Linked DNA regions of Homo sapiens: region 1 is linked to region 2. The links come from fine-mapping of genetic effects on gene expression. Tissue or cell type: whole blood. Region 2 holds a variant in brackets; the other region holds the start of a gene. All regions are shown on one strand. Distances are between the middles of the regions.

What was found. PIP is the estimated chance that this variant, and not a neighbour inherited with it, causes the effect.
Region 1: it holds the start of CCNC, and the variant in region 2 is fine-mapped to the expression of CCNC in whole blood (INTERVAL, PIP 0.99).

What each region holds. Positions count from the first base shown.
Region 1 is chr6:99,567,519-99,570,284 of GRCh38, reverse strand. CCNC (cyclin C) reads left to right here and starts at 1,625. Exons shown (of 12, transcript NM_005190.4): 1 at 1,625-1,789. The coding sequence starts at 1,758. It also overlaps the pseudogene TSTD3. RefSeq lists enhancers at 1,268-1,317, 1,438-1,727, 1,848-1,927.
Region 2 is chr6:99,541,500-99,544,265 of GRCh38, reverse strand. It overlaps CCNC (cyclin C), which reads left to right. Exons shown (of 12, transcript NM_005190.4): 12 at 657-1,879. The coding sequence ends at 711. It also overlaps the pseudogene TSTD3. Among named protein-coding and RNA genes, the nearest start is that of CCNC, 26 kb to the left of the region's middle. The variant G/A (reference allele first, on the strand shown) is at 1,690.

The DNA.
Region 1 (2,766 bases), 26 kb before region 2:
TCTTGTAAAATTAAATTATGGCTTTTTTTGCAGTATGTTTCTATTAGGTGCATACATGTACATACATGTGCATACATATATGCATGAATATTTTTAGATGTTCTGCAAAACTGTTGATTCCGCTGCTCTGTAAGTTTGCACTTTATCACTCCAAAATAACTCCATTAAGATCGCGGCCGAGATCTCGCCACTGCACTCCAGCCTGGGCGACAGAGCGAGACTCCGTCTCAAAAAAAAAAAAAAAAAAGATCGCGGCCGGGCGCGGTTGCTCACGCCTGTAATCCCAGCACTTTGGGAGGCCGAGGTGGGCGGATCACGAGGTCAGGAAATGGAGACCATCCTGGCCAACATGGTGAAACCCTGTCTCTACTAAAAATACAAAAATTAGCTGGGCGTGGTGGTGTGAGCCTGTAGTCCCAGCTACTTGGGAGGCTGAGGCAGGAGAATCGCTTGAACCTGGGAGGCAGAGGTTGCAATGAGCCTAGATAGCGCCACTGCACTCCAACCTGGGCGACAGAGCAAGACTCCGTCTCAAAAAAAAAAAAAAAAAAAAACCGCCTGATCCAGGCCGGGCCTGGTAGCCCACGCCTGTTAATCCCAGCATTTTGGGAGGCTGAGGCTGACGGATCACCTGAGGTTAGGAGTTCCAGACCAGCCTAGCGAAATCCCCTCTCCACTAAAAATACAAAGATTAGATGGACGTGGTGGCACGCGCCTGTAATCCCTGTAATCCCAGCTACCTGGGAGGCTGAGGCAGCAGAATCATTTGAACTGGAAAGGCAGAGGTTGCTGTGAGCCGAGATTGTGCCACTGCATTCCATCCTGGGTGACAGACCCAGACTCCGTCTCAAAAGTAAAAAACAGGCAGGGTGCGGTGGCTTACGCCTGTAATCCCAGCACTTTGGGAGGTTGAGGAGGGCGGATCACGAGGTCAGGAGTTTGAGACTATCCTGGCCAACATGGTGAAACCCTATCTCTACTAAAAATACAAAAATTAGCTGGGCATGGTGGTGCGCGCCTGCAGTCCCAGCTACTCGGGAGGCTGAGGCAGGAGAATCGCTTGAACTCCTGGAGGCGGAGCTTGCAGTGAGCCGGGATCGTGCCACTGCACTCCAGCCTGGAGACAGAGCAAGACTCCGTCTCAAAATAAATAAATAAATAAAGTAAAAAAAAAAAAGGAACACTTGATCCCTGAGAACAAAGTCATCTTCATTTATTTCTCTTTCCAATCACAGGAAAAATAAGTCACAAAACCTTGTACTTTATTACAATGCCACATTGTTCTGTTTTTGAAGTCCTGGAAGAGGTAATAACAGAACCCCGTATCTGAGCCACTTCGCCTAGGTTAGACCCACTCAGCAACTCCCGTGCTGAAGACAGGAGACCGAGCGGCTTGGGCCCCCGGCCAGAATTCTCAAGACGCTCTCGCGAGAGCCTTCCAACCGCCGCGAGCTCTCGTGAACACTAGTTCTCTTCAATCTCAGCACCTCCAAGGGTCAGCACCTCCCCTCCGGCTCCCTCCGCTACCGCGGGCCGGAACTTTTGTCGATAGGAACGGGTTTGCACAGTTGAGTGTTGTCGGCCGGCGTGAAGGAGACTAGGGGGCCATCCTCTTCCTTTCGCCGTCGCCGCCGCGGAGCGGAGTCGAGCCGAGCTGATTTGATCGAGGAGCGCGGTTACCGGACGGGCTGGGTCTATGGTCGCTCCGCGGGCCGCTCCGCCGGCTGGTGCTTTTTTATCAGGGCAAGCTGTGTTCCATGGCAGGGAACTTTTGGCAGAGCTCCCACTAGTAAGCGATCTTCCGTCTTCTCACCTGGGGCCGGTTTTTGGGGGAGCTGTGAGGACGGGGCCTGTGACTCCCCTGGGCCTGGATCCCAGCTCAGTTCCGAGTGCCGGGGTCCTCACGGGAGACCGCAGCGGTCAGAATCAAGATGCGCTTTTCTGAGGCGACTCCCCTCCCCGCCCCCAGCCCCAGTTTCGGGGAGGGAAGGATCTGTGAGGGGGAGGGGTGGGAGAGAGTTTCGTCTCCCGGGAAGGAACGTTTCGGAGTTTAATTTCGGATTCTTGGTTTAGCTAGGCCGCGGGGGGTCGGATAGAGTGGGCACAGGTACGGGAAGTGTGACTCAGCTCAAGACTGTGAGGCTACCTGTTCAGGACAGTTGTGGCGTGCTTTTACCTGGGGTTTCTTCGGGTGATCGGCGTCGTGGTCTTTTGTCATTCACTGTATATCTTGAGTGGATTTAATATTATGAGGAGAGGAGAGAGTCTGGCTTGTTTCTGCCTACTAACCGCTTCTTGCGCGTACTTTATGTCTAGATGGAGTTTTATATTGATAAGGTATAGGGCAGGTGCCCTCTAAATTTATCCATTTCATTAGCCTGTGCTTTATATTTTGTTTTAAAGGCCTATTTTTCCAGTGACTTTGTTTACCTGTTTCTTTAACCTTTTTCATGAATAAGTTCTTGTTTCTGTCAGTGACCATGTGAGAGCTAGAATAATATTAAAAACATTTATCCCTAAATACATTTGTTTAAGCAGGCAGGAAGGTGCGTTATGGGGTAAATTGAACATTTGAGTAGGCTTTCCACTGTATAGTTGAAAGATGAACAGAATTTGACAAGGTATCTTGGTATAATTTTTTATGCTAAGAAAGCATTAGTAAGTAATTTAAATTTCGATTCTGTGAATAGGATCTGTTCCTGATGTTCATTTTTTAGCCCTTTGCAAAGAGAAAAAAAGAAACAATGAACTCAGTAACCTATTTAA
Region 2 (2,766 bases):
TGAGTGATTCTCCACTAGTGGCAGGGCCTGAAGCTGCAAGATGATGGTGGACAAGATAAGGCAATAATCCTATTGCCAAAGTTACTGGTATTTTCAGTTTTAGTTATTTTTAAGTATTCAGCATTTTTATTTTAAGTATTCAGCATTTTCCAGGAAATTACCATATTTCTTGCTGACTTATAAAGGTTTGCTGTATTTATATATGATTTTATTATGCCTTTGGACAACAGTTTTGGTTTTTTTTTTTTTTTGAAGAACACTTCTTGTTTTTCATAAATAGTAGGAATAGGATTTTATATGTAAGATTTAATTTTATAGGAAATTTGTTTAGAAGAAGCTGTAATCTCTATGTTGAGTGATACCTGTAATAACAATGAAATCCCATACCCTAATTTAAAGTTTTTGAGTATATATGGACACTAACTTCCAGAATGCTTGTTATATGTGAGGGCACAAAGTTATATAAGAATAAAAACATAAAACCAATGTTTGTTAGTCTTCTGGATTTTAATTTTTCACGTGTCTTATAATGAGGAATGTCTTTGTTTTGTATAGTTGTGCCACAGAATAATGAATTTAAAAGTCAGTAGGCTTATCAGGGTGTAAAAATGGATCTTTTAATTGGTATAAAATCTCTTTCTTCCCCATTTGAACAGTGAAGGAGAGCAGGGTCCAAATGGAAGTCAGAACTCTAGCTACAGCCAATCTTAAAACATTCCGAAGAATTCCATAGTGGACCACTTGGAAATAAACCATTGGACAGATTTCAGTAATGTCTTCAGTGGAACACAAATGAAAATGAATAGCTTGTTTCTGTCAAGCATATTGGAAAGTGATTTTATTTTTGCAAAATAAGTTTTTCTTTAATATGATTCTAGTACATAATTGATTAAAATCTCTTGATTATAAATGTTTGGAAAGGTTCTAAGGGGACCTACAGACAGACATACATAGACATTTCAAAATTAATAGCTTTTGATTAGTATAATATTTCTTAATTTGGATAATAAAAATTGTAGCTTTTTATTAAGCCAGGAAACATGAAGCATAATTTGTTTAAAATTCTCTTTGGTCATTGAGGGACCAAAAAAGGACGTAAAATTTACAGTCAATCTATGAGGGTTTTTTTCCCTCCATAAGTTTAACTTTAAAACTGTATTTAAGGAATCAAATCTTACAAAATCCTGGAAGATTTTGGTAATGATGTTGATAATTTCAGGGAAATTAATCAAGTACCTATATTGATTTAAAAGTGTATTTTATTCAGTAGTTTGAGGATCTTGCCATGGAAGATACTAGCCCAGCCTAGCAGAAAAGTGCAATATGTATAGCATACTTTGACATTTTAAACATGATAGTCCATAACCATTTTGAAATGCTGGGCAAACTACATGAAGTTATTTATAATTAATTCACAGCTAATCAGGCATTTTGAAAGCTTAATTGGATTCAAAAACCATAATGTTGGAATTTGGTAAAATTTTAATGTTGATTTTTACTGTGAAAAGGTTTTTATAAGATATACACACCCTAGTTTAATGTTGTGTCTTGGTGTGGATTTACAGATTTACTACAGGTATTCTGAACCAGGAACACAATCAGGTTTCAGGCCAGTTTGATACTGGCTGTCCTTAATTCTAATATGAGAGTAGGACATCATACTAAATGTTATGTCAGTGGGACTGTACT[G/A]TCTGTGGAACTTAGCAAATTAATCATTTTCTTCAGACTTGAAGGAGAGTGATAAATAAAATTTGGAGTCATAGGATATTGATGCACAATTTAAGGATTAAACATTTTTAATCAATTGTGGATGATGGCTTATTAAATGTTGACTTCCTAGTATAAAACTGCAAGAATAAAAGTAACTTCTCCAGCTGTATCGACTAGTGTCTTGAATTTATCTTTTTGAATTTGCCTGATGTTGTTTTTTGAGAATTCTTCTTCCTTTAGTTAAGTGTTAAAGCCTTTTATAGGTTGTCAAGGGGGTAATTTCAAATCATTACAAACAGATTTTAAATAGAAAATTTATTTCTGATGGAGCGTATCAAATGAGCTGGAAAGCGAGACTGTGTAAAGTCAGACTGATGACATATATAGGTTTCCTGGGCTTAATAAGAAAAAAAGCTCTCCTCAGGTCTGAAGGAATTAATGTTGGGCTTAGGTAAGACCTATAGTCTTTAAGTGTTTATTTTTAAAATTAATACCATGCCTCATAGTTTTGTTTTCAGTCTCTTATTGTGGAAGATTTAAAACAACATATACAGGAGTAAAGTAAGGAACCTCCATGTACCTATCATCTAGCTTCAGTAGTTATCAATTTATGGCCAATTTCATTTCATCTAAACTCCCACCCACTTTCCGTAAGTTGCCATCCCCCATCTTATTTTGAAGCAAATCCTAGATATCATATAATTTTATCCATAAATATTTCAGCATATATTCCTAAGAAATAATAGCTCTTTAAAAAAACTAAAAGTATTATTGTGCCTCAAAAAGAATTAGTAAAAATAATATCAGATTTTCAGTTATTTCACAAGTATAAAAATTGTTAGAGTTCTAGTCAGGATCTAAATAAGGATCACATATTACAATTTATTGACAAGTCTTTTGTCTTGTTATTATTTTATTTTCTTTTTTTTTTTTTAGATGGAGTCTCACTCTGTCGCCCAGGCAGGAGTGCAGTGGCGCAATCTTGTTCACTGCAACCTCTGCCTCCTGGGTTCGAGTGATTCTCCAGCCTCAGCCTCCAGAGTAGCTGTGTCTACA